Linked DNA regions of Homo sapiens. The protein of the gene in region 2 interacts with the protein of the main gene of each other region in a pairwise test. Each region holds a gene or a part of one and is shown on either strand. Other genes may lie near its edges.

The links.
Region 1: the proteins of PXMP2 (region 2) and PEX3 come close enough for resonance energy transfer, tested with the Homo sapiens proteins (one large-scale study listed by BioGRID).
Region 3: the proteins of PXMP2 (region 2) and ABCD1 come close enough for resonance energy transfer, tested with the Homo sapiens proteins (one large-scale study listed by BioGRID).
Region 4: the proteins of PXMP2 (region 2) and PEX26 come close enough for resonance energy transfer, tested with the Homo sapiens proteins (one large-scale study listed by BioGRID).
Region 5: the proteins of PXMP2 (region 2) and ATAD1 come close enough for resonance energy transfer, tested with the Homo sapiens proteins (one large-scale study listed by BioGRID).
Region 6: the proteins of PXMP2 (region 2) and ACBD5 come close enough for resonance energy transfer, tested with the Homo sapiens proteins (one large-scale study listed by BioGRID).
Region 7: the proteins of PXMP2 (region 2) and SLC25A17 come close enough for resonance energy transfer, tested with the Homo sapiens proteins (one large-scale study listed by BioGRID).

What each region holds. Positions count from the first base shown.
Region 1 is NC_000006.12:143,449,547-143,453,604, reverse strand, and holds the start of PEX3 (peroxisomal biogenesis factor 3), read right to left. Parts: upstream 2,801-4,058; 5' UTR 2,563-2,800; coding exon 2,490-2,562; intron 1-2,489. Other genes in the region: ADAT2 (tRNA-specific adenosine deaminase 2), read left to right, coding at 2,947-3,042. UniProt on the Homo sapiens protein: Involved in peroxisome biosynthesis and integrity. Assembles membrane vesicles before the matrix proteins are translocated. As a docking factor for PEX19, is necessary for the import of peroxisomal membrane proteins in the peroxisomes.
Region 2 is NC_000012.12:132,701,087-132,704,586, forward strand, and holds part of PXMP2 (peroxisomal membrane protein 2), read left to right. Parts: intron 1-163; coding exon 164-283; intron 284-3,500. UniProt on the Homo sapiens protein: Seems to be involved in pore-forming activity and may contribute to the unspecific permeability of the peroxisomal membrane.
Region 3 is NC_000023.11:153,738,356-153,741,855, forward strand, and holds part of ABCD1 (ATP-binding cassette sub-family D member 1), read left to right. Parts: exon of another isoform or gene 1-223; intron 224-1,736; coding exon 1,737-1,882; intron 1,883-2,218; coding exon 2,219-2,364; intron 2,365-3,500. UniProt on the Homo sapiens protein: ATP-dependent transporter of the ATP-binding cassette (ABC) family involved in the transport of very long chain fatty acid (VLCFA)-CoA from the cytosol to the peroxisome lumen.
Region 4 is NC_000022.11:18,101,990-18,105,896, forward strand, and holds the end of PEX26 (peroxisome assembly protein 26), read left to right. Parts: 3' UTR 1-3,407; downstream 3,408-3,907. UniProt on the Homo sapiens protein: Peroxisomal docking factor that anchors PEX1 and PEX6 to peroxisome membranes. PEX26 is therefore required for the formation of the PEX1-PEX6 AAA ATPase complex, a complex that mediates the extraction of the PEX5 receptor from peroxisomal membrane.
Region 5 is NC_000010.11:87,787,227-87,790,726, forward strand, and holds part of ATAD1 (outer mitochondrial transmembrane helix translocase), read right to left. Parts: intron 3,205-3,500; coding exon 3,084-3,204; intron 1,904-3,083; exon of another isoform or gene 1,839-1,903; coding exon of another isoform or gene 1,814-1,838; intron 1-1,813. UniProt on the Homo sapiens protein: Outer mitochondrial translocase required to remove mislocalized tail-anchored transmembrane proteins on mitochondria.
Region 6 is NC_000010.11:27,209,798-27,213,297, reverse strand, and holds part of ACBD5 (acyl-CoA-binding domain-containing protein 5), read left to right. Parts: intron 1-2,216; coding exon 2,217-2,484; intron 2,485-3,500. UniProt on the Homo sapiens protein: Acyl-CoA binding protein which acts as the peroxisome receptor for pexophagy but is dispensable for aggrephagy and nonselective autophagy. Binds medium- and long-chain acyl-CoA esters.
Region 7 is NC_000022.11:40,774,347-40,777,846, reverse strand, and holds part of SLC25A17 (peroxisomal membrane protein PMP34), read left to right. Parts: intron 1-473; coding exon 474-619; intron 620-711; coding exon 712-807; intron 808-3,500.

The DNA.
Region 1 (4,058 bases), on a different chromosome or scaffold from region 2:
GCTAGCAAAGGAGAAAACAAGGCTGCAGTGAGCTACGATCACACCATTGTATTCTAGCGTGGGTAACAGAGCAAGATCCTGTCTGAAAAACAAAAAAACAAAAAAACACAAAACCCGAACACACCCAAACCCCCCAAACTGGTCAAATTATACAAACGCGTAAACCAATTAGTTACCCACCCAAAATCTGAGGAAACAGAAATTGTTACTTAAGAAGGCCTGCTACTCAAGGTTTTACTTACTTACTTCCCCCACTATTGAATGCCCAAACTTCTCTGCGCATGCCTGTTGATATACTACCCAGCTTTCAAGCCTGTCAAAATGTGTCTCTTCTTCCATGAAATTCTTCCTGATTTTTCACAACTGCATATGCTACTTGCCAGTGTGATCTGTACAGCATTTTTTCACCTCTCTTGTTTTTCTGTATCTTAATTACATGTATACTTGCTTTTCCTTCCTATCAGACTATAAAGGCCATGAAAGCACAGTGATATAATATGGAAATAGAATGTGCTTTGTGGTCCAACACACCTGGGTTTGAATTCCAGTTCCCCTTCACTAATTCTGAGACCTGAGGCAAGTTTCTTAAATTCTTAGGGTTCTTGCTGCCACATTTTTGAATGGGGATAATAATAATTGTCTTCTTGTCATTCTGCTTAAATAGGAAGAGCTTAGCACAATGCCCAGCGTAAAGTGGGCACCCAATAAATAGTAGCTGTTACTATTAAAAATATATAAATCTTGTATTTCCATTTATATTACCTTCAGCATTACAGGCACTTGATAGGTATTTCTTAAGTTAGACTAATTAAAATCTAACACACTGTAGAACTTTCTCCCTGAAGCAGAAAGAACATGAGACTCAAACAAATGCCAACCACGGTCATCTACTCTTCCTTTCTTTTCAGACTGACTCCTTTTTTGATATAAAACACTAGGATTATTTTCTCTTTCTGGCCGTCTGAACTTTTCTATTTTTTGCATTCCTCTTATTCTGTAACTATAAAGCTCTTGTTAGTTTTTTAAAAAAATTATAAGTTTAAGTATACTCTTTTGCTTCCCCTGTGATTATTTCTAATCTACTACAAAGTTGTTCCATAAGCTGAAGGAGTATTCCTTCTGAGATCGCTAAAGAGATAATTTTCCTTCCTTCAGTAAACGCAAAAATACTTTATTTGTATTTCTTCAATCACACATATATTTTTAGCTTTTATAAATAAAATGGACTCTGTAGTCTTAGGATAATTTAAATATACATTAGATACTAGCGACTGAAGATATCAGAAAATACCTTTTATATATAAAGGATTTCTCGAAGGTGTTCAAAATTTACATATGCTTATTATTGATGTGTGATAGACCTCAGAGACATGCAAAACACCATCCTTGGCTCAGCAACAAGAACTCTGTTTCAAACTTTCAAGCATCACCAAAATCTGAACTATTGATGCTAAAGGTATTAATTGCAAATTGTTTGGGGAGAACAGAATACAATCTAATACGTACTGTTAATTTCAAATTGTTTGGGGAGAACAGAATACAATCTAATACTAAGAGAAAAGCCAACCAAATTCTTTGGGAAACTCTGTTCTTGATTTTAAGTACTTTTGTAAACATAGCATGTAATAAGTGATGAGACTATTTCTCAAAAACTCAAGTTCTAACAAATTTCCTCTTTTATAGTTCCTAGATGTCCTTTTCATATAATTCACAAAACTTTTATTCCCTCCTTCAAATCCCTGAATATTATCACATGAGCATTGTATGAGGGAAAAGCGTCTCAAGATTTTTATCTTATCTGTTTCTAAATCTCCTCTGGGCCTGTGCAACTCAGTTATGTCAGCTAGATTACAATGATCCCAACCTTGAAGATCCTGAGGAAGATTGCACAACATCCCTCAAGCATTTTTCTTACTGCCATAGTTTGTATTCTAAAATGGCAGAAACAGAGCTAAAATATTGATTTGTTTTTCTTTATCTAATCCATATCTTTCAGTCCTTTAGGACAACTGCGCTGTTTTCAAAAATTCAAATCGACTTTAACCACCACCCGAAGTGCAGCCTATAGGTAACTTCCCTAGATTATTATTAAACTCCTGAGAAGGGTGAGAGCCAAAGTATCAAGAGTGCCAAGGAGAAATGCAGAATCTCACAGGAAAGCAGAATTTTTTTTAAAAAGTTCCTGTAAGAGAATGGTGCCTTGAAACAGAAACTTAAACTGTGATGAGTTCTCCAAAGGTCCGTGAGAAAAAAGGATAGGTGAGAAACAGAGTTAAGAGTCGGTGACAGGGCAAAGGGCACAGAGGCATTTCTCAACTGCAGAGATGGGAGAACCCTGGAGGTTGGCCACCTCCCTTTTCATCCCATGGTTGATCGAACTCCCTCTACATATCCCAGACTAGGATCGCCCGGCCTGTCCTTATTTTAGAAGAAGTCACCTCTCCCACCCCCTTCTCCCAATGCCCCCTTTCAAGCACGTTGTCACCCACCTCCAAGGACCGTGCCCAGGAAGATGCATTTCTTTTTGTGGCGTTTCAGAAAATTCCATACAGACCTCAGCATCTTTAGGCCCTAGGGGTGTGGGCTGACTAGGGGTGAGGGACTGCTTCACCAGGAAACTGTTTCTTCGTCACCTGGCCCAGATGACCCAGCAAGAGCGCCGTCGTCCCGTTCTGTGCTCTCCCGAAATCACAAACGTGACTTTCCGCAGAGACTGTCACCGGAGCGGCAAGGGGGCGTGGACTACAGCAAAGCAGCTACGCTTTCTGCCGCTGCCGCCGCGCAGCCGCCGCCGCTCACTGGTCCGACAAGCCCAGGTCCGTTCAGAAATAGCTCCCGAGTGCCTTTTCATTAGACTACCCCCGGAAACGGGGTCCCGGGCCCGCCGCGTTCCGCTGCCCGCGCTCCTCCTCTGCCGCGGGCTCTGTAGCTGAGTGGTGGCTGGGTATGGAGGCGAAGGCGGCACCCAAGCCAGCTGCAAGCGGCGCGTGCTCGGTGTCGGCAGAGGAGACCGAAAAGTGGATGGAGGAGGCGATGCACATGGTGAGGAGCCCGGGAGGTAGATGCTGCGGGGTGGGACCTTTCTCCAGCCCTCAACCCGACCCCGGCATTTGAGCAAACGTTCTTTCTCGTCACCATAATTTTTATGGCAGTCAGATGTTCTGGGTGAACAACTGGCTTTACTGCCTCGAAACTTTCTGTAGCCCATTCTCACAGTGGCTCTGGGCGAAGGAAGGGGAGGAAATACACAAATTATTTGTTTCATTGCGGTGGAGTATGCTGCAGACTTAACATTCTGTCGCCGGCTGGCACGTGCTGCCTCCCTTTCCTTTCTGTGGTCACACACTCTCCAATCTACAAAGTCACATTATTTGAGGTTTTGGCCCTTGGAACATGTCCAGCAGAAGGAAGGAAACTGAGAACGTTTCTGGTAGAGAGCAGTATGGAAACAAGTCCCTGTACAATCGGCGTCTCGCATTCATTCATTATTTCCTCTGCCCTTTTACTTCCTTCCCTCACTCCCTTCAGGACTGCGAAATAAAGGGGGCTTTCAACAGAATGCTGTGTGCTAGCGAGCTTCTTAACTGGGAAAAAAAGTTTGTTTGTAAATATATGTATTTACATTTTAATAACTACATACAGCCACGTGCCACACAATGACCTGTCGGTAAAGGTCGTTATCCTGGAGCATTAAATCTACTCACCTTAGCCCTATTGTCCCATCCAAGTACTAACCAGGCCTGACCCTGCTTAGCTTCCGAGATCGGGGGACATTCAGGGTGGTATGGAGGTAGACAACCCTAGTTTCTATGTAGACTTCTGGGCTAAACACTTTCGCTACCTTTTAGGTTGACCCTGGGCTAGCACATGTAAATACATTTACATACGTTTACAAACAAACTTTTATCCCAGTTAAGAAGCTCGCTAGCACTTTTCAGCTCCATTATAATCTTATAGGACCACATATACAGCGGTGGTGCTATAGGATTATAATGAAGCTGAAAAGTTCCTGTTGCCCAGTGACATGTAGCCCTCCTAACAAGTACTTTTTTTCCTTT
Region 2 (3,500 bases):
GCTCCTTAGAGCCGCAGTGCTGAGTACACATGTGTGCTGTCTGCGTACACACAGAACAAAATCCAATAGCAGTTTAAAAACCATCACGATAGGGTCTGGGTGCCCGGAATTCAGTTCTGATGGGCAGTGAGACTGTTCACCACCCGCCTTCCCTCCTTTGCAGGGGAAAGACGCCTCAGCCTTCGCCGCCAAGATGAGGGGGGGCTTCTGGCCGGCGCTGAGGATGAACTGGCGGGTGTGGACGCCACTACAGTTCATCAACATCAACTACGTCCCTCTGAAGGTGAGGGCCACGGGGCTCAGCCTCTGCTAACATTACTTTGTCAGCCTTTTCCTTCCTTCCTTCCTTCCTCTTTCCTCCCCCCCTCCCTCCCCTCTTCTTTTCTCTTCTCTTCTTTCTTTGGTAGTTTTCCGCTAGACTTAGTTTCATCCGTGTCTAGACTCCTCAACTACCCTTGGATTTTGCCCATGACCCTGAATCATTGCTAGTTCGGGATTCAGGAAGCAACAGAGAAGGGTGTCCCGAGTGGTCGTCTTTGCCTCTTCTGTTCGTTCAGCAAATTCTCATTAAAAGCCCCCATGCCAGGGATGCCTATGAGTTTTCTAGCCTTTGAAACATTCCCAGTCCCAGGAATGTACATGCAGGCAACTTGAATCTATGCTCCTGGGTTGCAGTCCTCAAACTTGGCCCAAATAAACTCTAGTTATACTTAGAAAAAGAAGGCCGTCACAGTAGCTCACACCTGTAATCCCATCACTATGGAAGGCTGAGGTGGGCAAATCACTTGAAGCCAGGAGTTCGAGACCAGCCTGGCCAACATAGCGAAACCCCATCTCTACTAAAAATACAAAAATTAGCCAGGCATGGTGGCAGGTGCCTGTAGTCCCAGCTACTCAGGTGGCTGAGGCACAAGAATCACTTGAATCCGGGAGACGGAGGTTGGAGTGAGCTGAGATTGTGCCACTGCACTCTAGCCTGGGCAACAGAGTAAGACCCTGTCTCAAAAAATAAATAAAATGTTAAAAAGAAACAAAGCATTCGTGGTCCCTGGGCTCATGAATTACAGCTGAGCCTGAAGGCAGGCACTGTGCGGCCATGGGTCCTGCCGCTGGCCTGGAAGAGCTGCCTCACCTGCAGCCATGGCAGCCACACCTGGGCAAGGGGTGGGCCCATCCAGGTGCAGAGTGAAGGCCTTCTGGGTAAGCTGAGCCTTTCCGCTATCCTGTGCATGAAGGAGCTGCTGTGGGGGCTGAGTCAAAGGTGTCAGATTGGGGCTGGGCTGGTGGTGTGGAGGCTGGAGCTCCAGGCTCTGCCACTGGGATCAACTGTCTTTATGCACAGCCAGGGTCCCCAGGACCACTCCCACACTGGGAGGATGGGGTGCAGCACCCCCTGCAGCATGGCAGGATACCCCCAGATGCTACAGGAGGAGGCCTGGCAGAGCCTGCAGGGGCCACGTGCTTCCCTCCCCCAGAAGGTATGCCGCCCATCAGGGTTTTTTACTGGTACTCTGGGCGGGCATCTCTGCCTGCTGCCCCAAAGCTCCAGACCCCTAGAAAGACAGCAGCTGTGTGGAGCCTGCATTGTTGGTGCAAACAGTCCAGGCACAGGGCAGGTGGCCCTTCTGGGAAAGGTGGGTGCCGTCCCAGCCCAGGCTGCTGCTAGGGAGGACCTGAACAGGCCTGCAGTGGCTGGACCTCAGCTGCAGAGGGCCTTCCTGCATTAGCACCGGCTCTGAGCCCTGCCCAGGAGGGAGGAAAGGACCAGGGTGACCCCCGAGGGAGAGGAGGGAGGCGGCCCAGTGTGTGCACACTGCACACACCACAAACACACCAAGAAGCAGCAGGAAACCAGGGGTGCACACAGACAGGACAAAGAGGCAGTTCACCCTTAGCCAAAGTTGCCAGGAGTTAAAGCAAAATAAAAAAATTTCCTTTGGCTTTAACAGTGGCCCTTCCCAGAGCAATTTCAGCTCTATGGGGCTGAAGCCAGATTGCCTTGAAGAGTGGGTGGGAATTATTTTAAAAATCACAAGTCTAGAACATGCTCTCAAAGTCTGTGGGGGCCAGGCATGGTGGCTCATGCCTGTAATCCCAGAACTTTGAGAGGCTGAGGCAGAAGGATCACTCAAAGCCAGGAGTTTGAGACCAGTCTGGGCAACATAGTGAGACCCCATCTCTATTTTATAAAAATGAATTTTAAAAAGTTTGAGAGAAGGTGAGAAGTGATGGAAGAAGGCTGGGTGGCAGAGGGGGTTCTGACACTCAGAGATGCGGCCATGGTGGGTGCAGACGTGAAGCTGCTTGTGGGATGGGCAAACACGCATGTCCAGAAAGAGCAGCTCTGCGGGGTCCCCTAAGGAGTCAGGGTGGATGTGAGCCCCCAGCACACTCACAGTGGTGCTTGGACAGAGGCCCTGCCCTCTGTGATGAGAGAGGAGAGAGAAAGTGACAGCTGAGCGGACAGGAGAGTGGGACATCCTGCCTCAAGCCCCCACGTGCCTCTCTGGAGGGCCAGGGGCTGGGACTGAGGGCAGAGGAAGTCAGGCGGGCATTTTAAGGGGATACAGGAGGGGCAAGTTTGGCCATGTGGAGGATGGGAGAGCATGCTGACTGCAGAGACAAAGACCTCTGGGCAGAGGGGGCTGGGGCTTGTCCAGCTGTGGTCAGCATCTGGGGAAGTGAGAAGGCAGGAAGGATAAAGGATTTTCCAGGGAGTGTGACTGAAGAACAGTAGGCTAAGGAAGCTACAGCCATGGGCCACTGGTTCTCGGGAATTTAGAGAAGGAAGCAGAGACAACTGAGAAGACAGACTGGCCGGGAACACGGAGGATCTGGGATGGAAGAGGGGAGAGCTGGGAAGCCGCGCCTCTGAGTAGCGTGGGGGCAGAGTCGCCATCCTAGGTGGGTGCAGGTGTATGCGGAAGCAGCATTCATTCAGCAAGCGTTTCCTGAGCAGTGACTGTGCGCCATGCTGCTAGACTCGGAGACGCGGCGATTAACCAGACACATGGGCTGCTACTTTCATAGCACCACGTGCCAGGGAGAGACTCAGCACTGGGCCAGAGGATTCTGGGGAAGGGTGAAGCTGCTGAGTCACCAAAGCAGGGCAGTGGGATGGTGATGGGTTAGAGGAGGGAAGGTCTGGGGCCCCTCCGCTGTTCGTCAGCTGTGTCCCCTGAGGAGGGTGCAGCCACCTGCATGATGGCTGGTCCTGGAGTGAGAGAGGCTGAACCAGGAGCTAAGGTGTGCGGTGAAGGGGGCAAAAGGAGAGTGACTTGGCTTTGGGATTCCTGGGCCGCTGTAGCCTGTGAACACTGTAACTAGGGGACCGTTTTTCTTCTCCACTCCTCTCTGCTAGGGGCCTAGCACAGCGTTTGGTACGAACAAAGGCTCAGTAAATGCAGTAATGGATGGGTGGTTGGACCAGCTGACCAACAAACGGGTAAACAAATGAACTGGGTGACTGAGGCTGGATAACTGGCCACGGCCTCCCGCTG
Region 3 (3,500 bases), on a different chromosome or scaffold from region 2:
CCTCTCTCCCGGCTCGGGGAATAGCAGTCCGAGAGGAAGGCGCAGGCAGGGCGGGCTTCTGCCAAGGACCGAGAAGGTGCCTCCGCTCGGGGCCTCTGTCCCAGCTTCTGCTCTGCTGCCCATCTGCGGGCTTCCCTGGCTTCTGCCACGGCAGGTCGGCCTCAGCCTCTGTCTCCACACGGCGCTCTCCCTCTGGGTGTGTCCGTGTCTCCGTCTCCCCTTTCTGTCAGGACACAGGTCACACTGCATTAGGGCCCACCCCTCTGCAGAATGACCTCATGCAGACCTAACTCATCACGTCCGCAATGACCCTGTTTCCAAATAAGCTCACACTCCGAGGTAGTGGGGATTAGGGTTCCCACATAGGAATTTCAGAGGACAGAGTTCCACCCATGACACTGCCTGAGGTAAGCTAAAGACCACGGCCTCAAGTCTTCCCAGGAGCCCCGTGTAGCATTGTTGTTGTTACCGTGAACTTCACTGACTCCAGGCCCCTGGCCTCCTCCCTGCACACAGCCCGCCTCCAGCCTGGCCGGCATTTTCCCAAAGTAGGCATTTCCTAGCTCCAGCGAGGACCATGGAGTCAGTGAATTGAGGAGCCTGAGGTCCATGATGCAGAGCCCAGGGGCCACTGTGGCATCTCTGGGCCACTCTGGCACCTGGGGAGGCAGTGGGGTCTGTACTGTCAGTCTAGAGACATAAAGAAAGTGCTTTTTGGGCCGGGCGTGGTCGCTCATGCCTGTCATCCCAGCACTTTGGGAGGCCGAGGTGGGCAGATCGCTTAAGCCCAGGAGTTCAAGACCAGCCTGGGCAACATGGCAAACCCCGTCTCTACAGAAATTTTTAAAAATACACAAATAAGCCAAGTGTGGTGGCGGTGCCTGTAGTTCTAGCCACTTGAAAAAAAAGGCTAAAGTGAGAGGGTCTCTTGAGCCCAGGAGGTTGAGCCTGCAGTGAGCCATGATCCCACCACTGCACTCCAGCCTGGGCAACAGAGCAAGGCCCCGTCTCAAAAAGAAAAGAAAGAAACTGCCTTTTGTCCCCAGTGACTCAGGAGGCCAAGGTGAGAGAGTCGCTTGAGGCCAAGAGTTTGAGACCAGCCTGAGTAACATAGCAAGACCCTGTCTCTAAAACAACATTTAAAAATTAGCCAGGCATGGTGGCGTGCATCTGTAGGCCCAGCTACTCAGGAGGCTGAGGTGGGAGGATCACTTGAGCCCAGGAGTTGGAGACTGCGGTGAGCTGTGATCATACCGCTGCACTCCAGCCTGGGCAACAGAGTGAGGTCTCGTCTCTTGAAAACAAAGTGCCTTTCAGGGCAGTTCCTTAAAGGGGGCTGACAGTTGACCCTGCACTTGGATTCCTGGTGAAGTGGGAGTCGGATGGGACTGAGGACGGCGCTGGCTGTGTTGGAACACACCTACTCATTCAGCTGTGGCAGAATAGGCCCTTCCTCTTGTGCTGGCACCATGTTCTCCAGGCGTGTCAGGGCCTGAGGACTGGGCCGGGGCTTGTCCATTCCTGTGTCCTGGGCCAGGCATTTAGCGAGAGCCAAATTTAGCTAGGGCTGTGGACGCTGGACCCCATCCCCCAGGCCCTGCTGTCCCTTATCAAGAGATCAAGAATGGCCTGCGTGCTGGCCTCGGGCATTGGGAGCCTCTCAAGGCTGGTCAGGAGGCCATAGGGTACGGGAAGGGGCCTGCGCTCTCTGGCGTCAGCGGCTGTTGCCCCTGCAGGTGGAGGAAGGCATGCATCTGCTCATCACAGGCCCCAATGGCTGCGGCAAGAGCTCCCTGTTCCGGATCCTGGGTGGGCTCTGGCCCACGTACGGTGGTGTGCTCTACAAGCCCCCACCCCAGCGCATGTTCTACATCCCGCAGAGGTAAGGAAGCCCGTGCGCCTCTCCTCCACCTCTTCCTGCCTGTGCGCTCACACATGGCTTCCTGCAGAGGCCCAGGAAGTGGTGAAGAGTCAGCACCTCAGGAGAGGACACTGAGGCACTGTCCCCAGAGCCAGAGACGGGCTGTGGTTCCTGCTCCCTCCAAACCCGCCCGATCCACTGCCCTGTTTTGGATCTGTGTGGGGTGTGTGCACGGGCGGCGATGTGAGCGTGTGGATGCGTGTGAGCGTGGCATGTGGACACTGCCTGGGAGGCGCAGAGTATCTTGGGGGAGGCAGAGCCGGCCCTTCCCTCCGTGGACACCCAGCTTTCCCACAGGCCCTACATGTCTGTGGGCTCCCTGCGTGACCAGGTGATCTACCCGGACTCAGTGGAGGACATGCAAAGGAAGGGCTACTCGGAGCAGGACCTGGAAGCCATCCTGGACGTCGTGCACCTGCACCACATCCTGCAGCGGGAGGGAGGTAGGAGGCCTGGGGCTGGCAGCCACCCTTTGTCCCACCCTGGCCTCTCCCTTGGCCTCCAGGGAGTGAAGATTACCTCAACATCCAGAGTCTAAAGTGCCAGGTGCCACGGGGCGGGGCAGAGGCTGCTACCAGGGAGGACCAACACCACACAGATGGCCCCAGGTGCTCTAGGGAAGGGGGCACCTAGCAGGGATGTGCACCTCACTGGGGGACCCAGGATACCCTCTCCCAGAGAAAAGAGGTCTGAGCTGAGCCCTGCAGAATGCTGAGTGGTTACCCCGTCCGGAAGCCAGGGGCAGCAGGGCGGAGTGCGTTCCGAAGGCTTGGTGGTGCGAGAGGCTGGCTCACAGAGGGCCCTCGGGACCAGGCGGGAGCCTAGGCTTTCCCTGAGCAGGATCAGACGCTCTTGGAAGGACCATGGGGTGGTGGGCAGGGGCAGCCTGGGAGGGGCAGGCACATGTGTGCAGTGATGGCTACTGTCAAGAGGTTTGTGCAGACGCTTGGAGGGGGCTGGGGCCAGCAGAGTCAGGTGGATTCAGAGATGAGTTCACTGAAAAGGAGGCCAGACTGAGCTGTTGTCTTGTCCTGGGCTTATCAAGGAATACTGCTTGTCCACAGTGTCTGTCGGGCCGGAAGAGCGGAGGAGGAGAGGGGGCTGCAGCTACAGGGACACAGTAGATGGAGTGTTCAGTTCTGTCTTTGAATTCTGAGCCTCTGGGTTCTGCTTCCAGCCTGCACTGCTGGGTGCGAGATGGCCCTGGGCAAGGACCTCGCCTTGCTGGGGCTCCCCTTCACGGTTCAAGGGCACGGGCACCAAGCCCTCCCTCGGTGGCAACATGAGAAGAAGTGGCTCCTGCAGGAAATGGCCGGGGTGTTGTCACCTGCCTGTGGAGGAAGCGGGGACACAGGTGGCAATGGCAGTGGAGCAGCCCCTGGCCCGGCCCTGCCTCTTGCTCCTGCTGCCCTCAGCCTGGGAGCACGTGGCCCCTCCCGCCTCTGTGGCAGCCTGAATGCCCAGGGCCTGTGGCCGGCCAGCATGAGCCATTAGGATGGAGTTGAGCTGCGAGGAACAGAACGGGCCTCCCCGCAATAGTGGCTAAGATCATCTGTGAGTTTATCCTACTGAGCTGTTA
Region 4 (3,907 bases), on a different chromosome or scaffold from region 2:
CAGGTATGGAGATGTCAGTGTCTAACTTTCTTCTAGTCTTTGCAATTTCACAAGGAAAATCACTAAAATGTGCGTCTCTTCATTTAAAAGAAAAAAAAGTTCATGCCAAAGCTGCTGGGACAAAGAGGACTCATGATAGTGGGTTATTCCACACTGTTGACACACTGAATGTATGCTGGCAGAAGGGCCTCAGGTGGAATGCTGGGCATGGGTTTGCCCCACAGCAGTCTGATTCAAAAGCACCTGAGAGATGGGAGGAGTACTAGGGTTACTAAACACAAGAAGGTGTTTCAGGAGAAACACATCAAGCCATTTGTTTTTGACCCTTAATACTTAACATGAATGATGAGTTGCAGAACAGTCAGTCTTTCCAAGATGTATTGTTCTATCCTCAATAGCTGCAGCCTCTCCAAGCCAGTGGGCTGGTGACATCCAGGATGATCCTCTTCCTTGCCTGGAGGTGGGATCTAGTGCCACAGCTTGTTCGGGGAAGCTGGCATAGAAGATGATTTGCTCAACAAAGTCACCGCTAAACTATCGCTTAGGTCTAGTCCCCGGCCTATGGCACCAAGTACTCCTGGTAGTACTTGTACACAGAATTTCTCTATAATAACCAGAACATGTCATCCATGGTAATGTCTGCTACATATCCAACCACAGCATCAAATTCTGTCTGATGAAGGGCACCAGCCCCTTCATCTTTATCATGCCTAATATTGTGAAGGCCATGTGCTAAATCCAGCAATCCGCTCCAGTAGGTGTCCTTCAGGATACTTTTCTGTCAAGTAAATACATTTATTAAAAATAGGCATGTAGCCGGGCGCAGTGGCTCACACCTGTAATCGCAGTACTTTAGGAGGCTGAGGCGGGCGAATCACGAGGTCAGGAGTTCGAGACCAGCCTGGCCAACACGGTGAAACCCCATCTCTACTAAAAATACAAAAAATTAGCTGGGCATGGTGGCGTGTGCCTGTAATCCCAGATACTCAGGAGGCTGAGGCAGGAGAATTGCTTGAACCCAGGAGGCAGAGGTGGCAGTGAGCCGAGATCGTGCGATCGTGCTATTGCACTCCAGCCTGGGCGACAGTGTGCGACTGCATCTCAAAAAAAAAAAAAAAAAAAAGGCATGTAAAAGTTAATCTCATGGAGGTAGAGAGTAGAATGACAATTACTAGAGGCTGGGCAGGGTGTGTATGTGGGATGAAGAGGTGGCTTGATGGACACAAACATAGATAGAAGGAGTGAGTTCTAATGCTTGATAGCAGAATAGGGTGACCATTGTTAACACTGTATTGGGTGTTTCAAAATAGACGGAATAAAGGATTTGAAATGTTCTCAACACATAGAAATGAGAAATACTCAAGGTCATGGGTATCCTGGATACCCTGAGTTGATCACTACACATTCTATGCATGTAATGAAATGTCACATCTACTTCAATAATATGTACAAATATTATTTATCAAAAAGCAGGCATGTAGGTGAGTTGATTTTCTTCCATGTCTTCAAACTCCTGGTAATACTTGTCCACAAAATTTCTCTATAATAACCGGAACATGTCATCCATGATAATGTGTACTATATATCCAACCACAACATCAAATTCTGTATCAGAGGCAGAAGAGAAGGACAGCATGAAGCTCGATTCCTCCAACTGTCCTTTGGCTGGTGGCCCTCCACCCTGCCCACAGCCCGGCCAGCTCAGCCCCGTCTCTGTCCCATACAGAGCCACAGCCACAGTGAGAGCCTGGCAGCCTGCCCGGAGGAGGCTTCTTGGCCCAGCCCGGTCAACACCCACATGCACCACCACCAACTTTTTGCTATTGTGAATAACATAGCTGTAAACAGATTGCATATGAAAGTGCTGTGAAATCACCAAGGGCTGAGTAGAACAGTTAAGACGATAGTAGTTGTTTTCTTTCTGGGTTTTTCTCTTGGGCTGGTTTTTGAAAGTGGATCTACAACATTGATAGAGATCAGTTTTTCTGCTCTTCCAACATACTGCCAGGACGTGGTCCAGAAAGATTGGGTACTTTGCAATACTCATAGCAATATGTGAAGTGATTGGAAAAAATGAGACTATTCAACCAGTTGTTTCAGTGTTGGTTAGGAGGAAAATGCCCAGAAAGGGGAACAGTTAATCATCTACACAATACCAAGAGCAGGAGGGGATGACCGACGGCTTCATCTTTCCTAGTCTATCCCACACAGACCTTTAGGTGCTCTTTTTTTTCTTTTTTTCGCTCTGTCGCCCATGCTGGAGTGCAATGGCGCGATCTCGGCTCACCACAACTTCCACCTCCCAGGTTCAAGCGATTCTCCTGCCTTAGCCTCCTGAGTAGCTGGGATTACAGGCATGCACCACCACGCCTGGCTAATTTTTGTATTTTTAGTAGAGACGGGGTTTCTCCATGTTGGTCTGGCTGGTCTCGAACTCCCAACCTCAGGTGGTCCACCTGCCTCAGCCTTCCAAAGCGTTGGGATTACAGGCATGAGCCATCGCACCCGCCTCTTTAGGTGTTCTTTTAGGAGCTGGTAGCGGAGGAAGGTGGTTACCCATCTGTGACAGAGCCTTGGATGTCACGAGGCCACAGGCTGGCCTTTCCTCCTGTTTACAGGAGGTGAGTTTTCCTGAGTTCCCAGCCTCAGTGTTCTCTGCACAGTCTGTCACTGACTCCCGCTCCCAGTGCTCACTGCCTCTTGTTCTCACTGCCTCCTGTTCTCACTGCCTCCTGTTTCTGCTGAGTTCTTTGCATCTGCCTGATGTTGGTTTAAAGCTCCACCCCTCCCAGGGGAATTTGTCCCATGATTCACCTCCTCTTTGGTGATCTCTTGATTGCGGCTGCTGCAGCCATGTAAACCTTAAAGGCGAGCCAATTTGTTTGTGATCCAGTGGCCAAAATGGTTCACCCTCAACTTCCCTTAATCCCCTGCAGCATCTGAGACACATGGGTGAATGTATGTAAGGTACTTGGGGCTAACCAAAGTTAAATACATATGACAAGTACCTGAATCTAGATAATCTAATGGTAAGATATCGTTTGCTCTCTGGACTTCATGGGCTCACCCCAGCAATGGGGTGCCTGGAAATGAAGAGATCTTTCTTGTGTCTCATCCTCTGGGCTCCCAGCCTCCCTCAACATCATGACCTCCATCTGTAACACCCACCATCCTGGAGCAGCATCCTGGATATTGGAACTCTGAAGTCTAACCTAAGAGAACAAGGACAAGCCTCTCTATGAAAGGTTTGCCCTTCCAGATCCAGTTGAGCTCTGCTCTGGAGCCAGACTCTCTGAAGCATAGCCCAGCTCTAGCTCTTACCAGTTATGTGATCAGGAATGAGAGTTAATGTTTCTATGTTTCTGATTCTTCATTTGTAAAATGAGGATAATAAAAATTTAACTTCAGAGGTTTGTTGTGAGGAATAAAAGCCATTAGCACAGTGTTTGGCATATAGAAAGTGCTCAGTGTTGGGGAATATTGAACAGATAATGAATATCGCCAAGAGTCTTTTCCTGGGTGATTGATAGAAATTATCTTACCTCCTGCTCTAATGAATGTGGCTCAACTATTTAGGCCATAACTGTAATTATATTTGGTTATATGGCCCCACAGCATTAAAATTCATACAAGAAGAACTTCACTCACACATAGTAACTGGAATGCAGTAGATGTGGATAATTTCTTTAAAAAGCCTAAATCATATGGGTGGTTGTTTTTTCATAAACAGCCTAGGCTTAACTTCAGTTTCTCATCTACAAAAAGGGGACTGTACTAGGGTTCTCCAGAGAAACAGAACCAATAGGTGGTATCTTGAGAGTTATAAGGAATTGGCTCATGCAATTATAGGGGCTGGGAAACCCAGGACCTGCAGTGGTTATGCTGGAGACCCAGAAGAGCTGAAGAT
Region 5 (3,500 bases), on a different chromosome or scaffold from region 2:
TTATCTTAAGCTTTATAGAGGCTTAAAAATTTAAACTCCTTTTTAAGACGGATGTTTTTGGTAATGGCTTTACTTAGTAAGTGCTATATGCAAATAAAAGATTTAGGAAGAGGATGGGCACAGTGGTTCACACCTGTAATCTCAACACTTTGGGATGCTGAGGCAGGAGGATAACGAGCCCAGGAATTCAAGACCAACCTGGGCCACAAAGTGAGACCCTGTCTCTACAAAAAATTAAAACATTAGGCAGGCATGGTGGTACATGCCTTGCAGTTCCAGCTACTCAGGACCCAGAGGCAGGAGGATCATTTGAGCCCAGGAGGCTGCAGCAGTGGGCTATGGTTACACACTCCAGCCTGGTGACAGTAAGACTCTGTCTCCAAAAAAAAGGATAAGAACAAAAAAAGTATTGGGATACACAAATCTAAATTTGAGATAATCCTCATTTGTGACAAATATTCCACCTTATTAGTGACTATTTTTCTTTTTTGGACAACTGTTTATTGGCTTTAACATAAAATTTGTCCAAATGGTGCAAAAATACACATCTATATAAATTAAATCTACTTAAATATAAAGTACTTGAGAAGAATATGGGTCTTTATAACAGAAAATCTATTTTTAAAATTATTTTTTTCCTTAGGTTACTCACAATTTAAAGAATGCACCAAAACATGAAGTATAACATTCACAAATGTAATAAAATTTATATACCAAAATAACAATACAGAATTCAGAAAGTTTACAGAGGAAGCCATATGGTATTCAGATGGATTTTGTTGGAATTTTAACTGTTGTAAATTTTTAGACGTTTGAGGGAAAAAAATCACTTTTTAAATATAACCGTCAATATCTTATGTGTGCCCCCATTTCCCTGTCACCAATTAGCGGCATCATGGTGTGCATTAGCTTCAACTTTGTATCTATACACAATAGTTACATATGACCTCATGCACTGCATGGATACTGCAGTCACTCTCCAATTATCTTTTTGTAGTCTGTGTGAAGCAGTGATCACTTTCAGCTCAGATAGCAATAAACTGTCTAAGGATAACATAAAATTGTCAATAACTCTAACCTAGGTAACCTAGTTCCAGTCCCAAAATGGAACAAACAAGGATGCATCTGATTTTACACTCTGCTTCTATACACCAATATCCAATTTATATTGAGGGTCAAAAAGTAAATTAATGATCTTCAAAACTGTTATTCTTGATTAAAAATTGTCCAGACATAAAGGTGAAAAAGTTCAAATAGCAAAACTTTATATAATCAGAAAATATTCATGTAACTTTTAAATTGGACAATGCTTTCAAATAAGAAGCAAATTTACATATAACTTTTGAAGTATTCCCTGCATAATTTGGTATCCACTCTGCTAAATGGGTCTTTAAACCAAGTCCAACTGGAGAAATCACCCAATTACCTGGTCTAAGATAACACTGATAAAAAAAGAAGCTTTCTCCAACAGCATATAAAAGGTATTTTACTTTCCTAAATTCACTAGCATTGTCCAATTGAGAACTAAAAATGCAGAAAAGTCATTTTTTGTTCAGACTACAAATAACCTGGAAGAGGGTAGTAAAGACTTAACTAATCCAACTATAGCCATACATTTTTGATCTGGGCTCAAATAATCATTCAAAGTTTTTTTTGCGGCAGGGGGGAAATCACAATAAACTGAGTGTTTTGTTAGGAAAAACTATAAGCAGTGTTGTTATTTCAGAAAACAAAAAGAAATACCTAATAGCTTTGTTGTTTTAATAATAAAAGAACATGTCATTTTTGCTGTTAACTGTCATCCTCCACTTACCAGAAACAAAAATTATGTAGTTCATAAAAATGCACAGGTACAGGCTTCAGTTACCTTTGATATGTAAATTAATGCACTTTATTGATATAGCTGCAAATTTAGAAAGATTATAAGCATTATAATTTAAACATACATAATGCTATTTTGATATTTTTAAAGATCCACTTTTTTGAAAAATCAATGTGACTAATAATTTAAGTCTTGACTAACAACATATCAAACCCATATAGTTTTGGCAATGCATTAGATAAGAGTTTCTGCTAGATGAAAATAAGCTATCTCGTGAAATTTGGATCTGAACGCCATAGTAACACACACATATATCTCTCACTGTAAATTATTTACACTCCATCTGAATCACCTTTAACAAGCCTTAAGCATGACAGAAATATGTGCACTAGCTGGGCACAATGGCTCATGCCTGTAATCCCAGCACTCTAGGAGGCCAACGCAGGTGAAGAACTTGAACTCAGGAGTTCAAGACCAGCCTGAGCAACATGGTGAAACACCATCATTACCAAAAATATAAAAAAAGAGCCAGGCGTGGTGGCACATGCCTGTGGTCCCAGCTACTCAGGAGGCTCAGGTGGGAGGATCACTTGAGCCTGGGAGGCGGAAGTTGCAGTGAGCCAAGATCATGCCACTGCATTTCAACTTGGGTGACACAGTGAGACCCCATCTCAAAAAGAAAAGAAAAGAGAGAAAAGAAAAAAAAAGAAAGATTTGAATGAACAAGAATTACACTTAATGATGCAGTTATGAGCATATTCAATTCTTGAGTTCCAAGACTTTCAAAGTGATTTTGAATAAGCAAACATCTCCATCAAAGTTAAATATTTAATTTCTAGTTCATCTGCAGATAAATATTTCCTGAAAAAGAATCATTACATTCTAAAAATAAGATCGTTGGAGCTGTGAAACAAGAAAAAAATGTCTTGGCTTGAAAACAAAACAAAACAAAACAAAAAACTTGTATTATGACTTTGAATCTTTCTTTAATCTTGATTTTCCAAATTTTAATTTACTTGGAAGTAAGAGAAAAGAAATTGAAGGAGATTATTTTAACAAGTATTTTAACATGTAAATACAGGAAAAAGTTTATCTCAATTTCAGAAGCTGAAGAATGAGCAATTATTTTAAGAAACTGTTCACATAGATCTCAGCATCCTCTTGAGAATCTGATTTCACAAAAACTAGTTCTACAATGGCAGAAAGTTTCAATGTTTTCTAGGATTTTAATGCTTTAGGCGAATATATACCTTTACCATACCTTTTGGAGGCTGCAGAAGCCTGGAATTCTCAAACAAATGTTTCTTTTTGATAGGTAAGATGACTGTGTCTTTCAGATCCGTAATGACATCATCTAAACCTGCTATATCACTCCAAGTAACCTGGCAAAAGTTAAGGTCAACATGAATTTTACTACAAATGTACACTCACTAAAGTAAAAAGAACGCTCCCAAAATTACAAATGTTAATCTGATGATTATACATAAATAAGTTAAAATCATATATTAACATAAGTAAAGACTTTTCCAAGCAGTAATGAAATAAACTGCTATGAAACTGGAAAAAGGAATTTAATAGTCAACTATCTACTATTAAAAATCTGTAAGTCAGGTACTCAAAAATCTGCAAGGGTCTAATAAGCTAAATTCATTCCACTTGTAAGGAGAAAATACTCTGC
Region 6 (3,500 bases), on a different chromosome or scaffold from region 2:
TTTTGATTTGCATTTCGCTGATGATCAGTGATGTTGAGCACCTTTTCATATACCTGTTGGCCATTTGTAGGTCTTTTGAGAAATGTCTATTCAGATCTTTTGCCCAGTTTTAATCAGGTTATTAGATTTTTTTCCTATTGAGTTGTTTACGCTCCTTATGTATTCTACTTATTAATCTGACAAAGGTGGTTTTGACAGCTATATTTCTGTTTGGCCTCTTTATATCCTCTCCCCATTCTGTTTCCTACCTACCTACCCTGTTCTAATACAGTTCAGTGTGTCTTATAGAAAATCATTTATCTTTTGCCTCCCTGAAATGATTTTAACTTTTTGTGTTTTTCTCCTTTTCTCATTTCATAATGCAATTAAATCTACCCCTTTTCTCAAATTTTAAAAACACATGAATAAAATATCTTTTACTTAAGGTCAAACACAAATGGAGTGGCGTAGGCTGGTCATGGTGGCTGACACCTATAATCCCAACACTGTGGGAGGCCGAGGCAGGTGGATCACTTGAGCTCACAAGTTTCAGAGCCGCGTGAGCAACATGGCAAAACCCCGTCTCTACAAAAAAATAAAAAACTTAGCCAGGCATGGTAGCTACTCAGGGAGGATGGCTTGAGCCTGGGAGGCAGTGGTTGCAATGAGCCAAGATCGCACCACTGCACTCCAGCCTGGGCTATAAAGCCAGAACTTGTCTCAAAAAAAAAAAAAAAAAGCAGCATAAATTGGAAGAATAATGATAAGGAGGCCAAACTGAGAATGAGTGAAATTAGTGAAAAATGAAAAGGATGAAAAACTCAGATTCCCTTTTATTTTTTTCTTTTTAAAAAAGAGATATTTGGGGAAGGTTGATGAAAGGGACCAGATAGAGATTAATCTCAGTAAATATCCAGCTGCTACATTCTAGTTTTGTTCCTGTTTTCTCTCTCAATCAGTTGATGGACTAAAGCTCAAGGGGCTGTCTGACCTGGCTTCTGGAGTGCAGTGGCACAATCTGGGCTCACTGCAACCTCCACCTCCTGGGTTCAAGTGATTCTTGTGCCTCAGCCTTCCAAGTAGCTGGGACTACAGGCATGTGCCGCCCTGACTGGCTAATTTTTGTATTTTTAGTAAAGACGGGGTCTCGTCATGTTGGCCAGGCTGGTCCCATACTCCTAGCCTCAAGTGATCTGCCTACCCTGGCCTCCCAAACTGCTGGGATTACAGGTGTGAGCCACCATGCCGGCCCCTTGCTGGCCTCTGTTAACACCACTCTCCTATTTGGTCGTTGCTCACCACCCACCCTGGCCTTCTCTCTGTTTCTCTAATGTGTCAAGTCCCTTCCTACCCCCACCCCCACTTGTACATCCTCCCTCTTCACTGAGGACTCTTATATACCCTTTATACCCTAACTCAGATGTCCCTTCCTGAAGGAAACCTTAGATAAGATACAACTCACCTCATCACCACCTTCATCAAGTCCAGTTAATTATAGGTTGTCATCCATCGATGTCTTAGGTGGGTTCTTTTAAAAACACATTTAGGTTCTGCCTACACAGTAGCCATTCTTTATTCCTTTACTTTCTAAATAAGCTTGCTTTGACTTAAAAAAAAATTTAGGTAGTAATCTCTAAGAATAAGGTAAGCATAGAAATGTAGATGTTTCTTTAATAACTGACTCACAAAAACAACTCACTGGGCGGGCGTGGGGTCTCACTCCTGTAATCCCAGCAGTTTGGGAGGCCGAGGTGGGCGGATCATGAGGCCAGGAGATTGAGACCATCCTGGCCAACATGGTGAAACCCCATCTTTCCTAAAAATACAAAAATTAACCAGGCATGGCGGTGCGTGCCTGTAATCCCAGCTACTCGGGAGGCTGAGGAAGGAGAATTGCTTGAACCCGGGAGGTGGAGGTTGCAGTGAGCCGAGATCGTGCCAGTGAACTCCAGCCTGGTGACAGAGCGAGACTCCATCTCAAAAACAAACAAACAAACAAAACAATTTACTACCCAAGCTTCTTGACTCTGTTCATGGACAAATCATTCTTGTCCTATTTCTTCCCTGCAGGTAGGAAGCAGCATATGAATTGAAGACATTTTTTAGAAAAAGAATATTTCCAATAATAACATGAAAGAACATTTTAGGAAAACAGTATTTCTCCTATTGCTGTAAAAACTTTGTGGTGTATAATTCACATTTCTAGCTTTTAACTAAGTGTCATTTCTAATTTGTAGTCTTTAGACAGCTTTACGTCCAACAATGGACCATTTCAGTATTACTTGGGTGGTCATTCCAGTCAACCCATGGAAAATTCTGGATTTCGTGAAGATATTCAAGTACCTCCTGGAAATGGCAACATTGGGAATATGCAGGTGGTTGCAGTTGAAGGAAAAGGTGAAGTCAAGCATGGAGGAGAAGATGGCAGGAATAACAGCGGAGCACCACACCGGGAGAAGCGAGGCGGAGAAACTGACGAATTCTCTAATGTTAGAAGAGGAAGAGGTGTGGATTACCTTTTTTCTTCCCTCACCTTTATTGATTTACTTACTTATTTTTGAGATGGAGTCTCGCGCTCTGTCGCCCAGGCTGGTGTGCGGTGGTGCAATCTCGGCTCACTGCAACCTCTGCCTCCCGGGTTCAAGTGATTCTCCTGCCTCAGCCTCCTGAGTAGCTGGGATTATAGGCACCCACCACCATGCCTGGCTAATTTTTGTATTTTTAGTAGAGATGGGGTTTTACCATGTTGGCCAGGCTGGTCTCGAACTCCTGATCTCAGGTGATCCACCCACCTCGGCCTCCCAAAGTGCTGGGATTACAGGCGTGAGCTGTGCCCGGCCGCCTGACTAATTTAAAAAGTTTTTCTGTAGAGATGGGCATCTCACTATGTTGCCCAGACTGATCTCAAAATTTACCTCCTTTAGATACAACAATAGAAGTCTTGAAAACAGCATCAGGCACCTCAGTGCCCTCTTTGGGGTTTAACTTGGCAAATAGCTCTAATTCGGTTTCCCTTTTAATCCCCAACAATGCTTGATGCAGGTTCAGCTATGGGAATTCTGCTGCAGTGGAGGTCCAGGATGCTAAAGGGCAATGAGCTAGACAATTTCCTATTTATTATTCAAAACAAAACTTGCCCATTATATTAGCAAATGTAAAATTTTGTAATATTCCATTCCTACAAGGCTAGGGTAACACAATAGTATCTTTTATACTCTGCAATATAACACTGTTTCAGCCTTCTGATAAATAGCTTGGGAACCTTGACCCAGTTGTTATCCTTTAATCCAGTAATGATTCTTTTTGGAATCTGTCTTAAAGAGATCAGGGGAAATTTGGACGAGTATTTACATACAAAACCATTCACTGCAATTTTGTTTGTAACAGAAAAAATTTGAACTCATCCTACCTATCCAAAAGTGGAGAATGGTTGAGTGAATTATTTCATAACCTAACTAGGGAATTTATGTAACCATTTAAGTGTTTTTGGAATAAAATTTAATGAGGCAGATAAGTGTTCA
Region 7 (3,500 bases), on a different chromosome or scaffold from region 2:
ATTAACCGATAAACTTGACCCCAAACTATCATTGCAAGAAAGAAATCTTTTTTTTTTTTTTTTTGGAAATGGAGTCTTGCTCTGTCACCCAGGCTGGAGTGCAGTGGCACAATCTTGGCTCACTGCAACCTCTGCCTCCCGGGTTCAAGCAATTCTCCTGCCTCAGCCCCCCAAGTAGCTGAGATTACAGGTATGCACCGCCACACCTAGCTAATTTTTGTATTTTTAGTAGAGACAGGGTTTCACCATGCTGGCTGGGCTGGTCTCAAACTCCTGACCTCGTGATCCACCCGCCTCGGCCTCCCAAAGTGCTGGGACTACAGGCGTGAGCCATTGCAACCGGCTGCAAGAAGGAAATCTTTATAGAACCAGTATGGTTTGTGTTCTGGGTACATTTCAACAGAATTCATGTTGTCTTCTCTAGTTGGGGGATTGTGATCATGCTTTTCAAAAGTCCCTGATTTCTTGCTTAGATGCTTTTCATCAGATCATTCGCGATGAAGGAATCTCGGCTTTATGGAATGGCACATTTCCCTCATTGCTGTTGGTCTTCAATCCTGCCATCCAGTTCATGTTTTATGAAGGTTTAAAACGGCAGCTTTTAAAGAAACGGATGAAGGTAATCCTTGATTTTGAAAGCAGTAAAATAATTCTGTCTGACACCTTCTTGTTGACTTGATTGATATGGTTTGTTCTTCCTTTGCTTTCCAGCTTTCTTCCTTGGATGTGTTCATCATTGGTGCAGTAGCCAAAGCGATTGCCACCACGGTGACCTATCCCCTGCAGACGGTACAGTCAATTCTGAGGGTGAGTGCTGGAGTTCTCTTCGCATTTAGTCAAACAGCATTCGAATACATGTAGTCTCTTGATTTAAAACAATGTTAATAAAGCAATAAAGCAGTTAGTTGGTATACCAGAATATTCCCTATCTGTTTTTTTTCTTTTCTTTTTTTGAGACAGGATCTCCCTCTGTCACCCAGGTTGGAGTACCGTGGTGCACCATGGGTCTCTATACCCTCGACCTCCTAGGTTCAAGCAGTCCTCCTGCCTCAGCTGCCCAAGTAGCTGAGACTACATACACCACCTTGTCCAGCTAATTTAAAATTTTTTTGTGTGAAGATGGGGTCTCACCATGTTTTCCAGGCTTGTCTCAAAGTCCTGGACTCAAGCGATCCTCCCACCTTGGCCTTCCAAAGTGCTGGGATTATAGGCATGAACCATTGTGCCTGGCCCCCATTTTTTCATTTGTTTGATATTCTGCTTAACTAGGCTGGCTGTCATTGGTTTAGAATGAAGTTTGCATTTGTAATTTCTTAGGTAACATAATGTCTCAGAAAACACAGATGTGGAGACAAGTTCCTTAAAGACCTCAGGAAAGCATAAGTTTGCTTCCTTCTCATTCAAGTTGATTGGTTTGGTGCCCCAGCAGGGATTATCCTTTACAAAGTCAGAGGTTAATTCCTTTAGTTCACTCAGGAGGAATGAATGATTTAGCTTTTTTGAAGCACTCTCAAACTTCTGTTTTTTATTTCATTCAGTTATTTATCCATTCAAATATTTACTAAGCATCCACACTGTGGGAGGACCTGGGCATGCAGTGGTAAATAAAAGTCATAATCCCTGCCCTTATGGAGCTAGTGGAAGAGAGAATGAACAGGTAAACAAGCAAAATAAATAGGTAATTACAAATTGAAAAAAGAACTATAAAGGAAATTATTTACTGGAGAGGGGCATGGTGGGGCTCTTCTTAGATAGCATGATTGGAGGTGGGCTTCTTTGAGAAGGAATATTTAAATCAAGATGCAAAGGAGGGTAAGGCCCTAGTGGGGCAGAGTGGACGAAAGTGCATTCCAGGCAGGGGGAGCATGATGTGTGTGTTAGTCCATTCTCATGCTGCTCTAAAGGACTGCCTGAGACTGGGTAATTTATAAAGGAAAGAGGTTTAATTGACTCACATTTCAGCATGGCTGGGGGGCCTCAGGAAACTTACAATCATGGTGGAAGGGGAAGCAAACATGTCCTTCTTCACATGGCGGCAGCAAGGACAAGTGCAGGGGGAACTCCTCCTATAAAACCATCAGATCGGTTGGGCGCGGTGGCTCACGCCTGTAATCCCAGCACTTTGGGAGGCCGAGGCGGGTGGATCATGAGGTCAGGAGATCGAGACCATCCTGGCTAACAAGGTGAAACCCCGTCTCTACTAAAAATACAAAAAATTAGCCGGGCGCGGTGGCGGGCGCCTGTAGTCCCAGCTACTCGGGAGGCTGAGGCAGGAGAATGGCGTGAACCCGGGAAGCGGAGCTTGCAGTGAGCCGAGATTGCGCCACTGCAGTCCGCAGTCCGGCCTGGGCGACAGAGCGAGACTCCGTCTCAAAAAAAAAAAAAAAAAAAAAAAAAAAAAAAAAAAAAACCATCAGATCTCATGAGACTTATTCACTACCACAAGAACAGTATAGGGGAAACCACCCCCATGATTTAGTTATCTCCACCTGGCCCTGCCCTTGACTTGTGGGGATTATTACAATTCAAGGTGAGATTTGGATGGGGACACAGCCAAACCATATCAATGTACTAAGAATTTGGTGTATCCTAGGGACTGAAAGAAGGCCTCTATGGCAGTAGAGTGGCTCAGGGTGAGATTGCAAGAGCAGCAGGGAAACTGTAGGTGAGGAATGTAGATTTTTATCCTCAGCACTTTAAGCTGAGAATATGTGATGGGAAGGGCTTTAAGCTGGGGAATATGTGCTGTGATTTACAATTGAAGAAGACTGTTGTGGCTATTATGTGGTGAATTGGTCAGAAAGCTAAGAGAGAAAGCCAGGGGCAATCTAGTAGGAGGCCATTTCAGTAATACAGGCAAGAGAGGATGGTGGCCTGGACCACGGTGGTGGCACTGGAGAGGAGAGGGGTAGGATGAGGACAGATTCAAGATCTGTTTTGGAGAAAAATTTCAAAAGGCTTGTTGCTAGATAAAATAGGGGTGGTAGTGAGAATATTCCAGTTCAGAAAAATTAGTACCTTCTGTTAAAAGCATTTTTACTAATATATTATTTTAAAATTGGTACTTAACATAAGGGAATTCAGTAGCATCCTTATAAATGTATTTTAACACTTTTATAATGTAAACACATAATCTGAAGAGCTTAGACTGCAGATGTTCTAAATGATTCATTTCTCAGAATTTCTTAAAGAAGTGGAAGTTATTACCATCAATATCTAAATCATCATCCTGGGCATATTTTTTTCTTTTGAGGTAGAATTTTCCCTATACCTCTCTATAAAATGAAAATTATTATGCTTGCTTCATTGAAAAATTTTTCTTAGGCCGGACATGGTGGCTCATGCCTGTAATCCCAGAACTTCGGGAGGCCGAGGTGGGTGGATCATTTGAGGTCAGGAATTCGAGACCAGCCTGGCCAACATGGTGAAACCACATCTCTGCTAAAAATACAAAAATTAGCCGGGCGTGGTGGTACATGTCTATAATCCCAACTACTCGG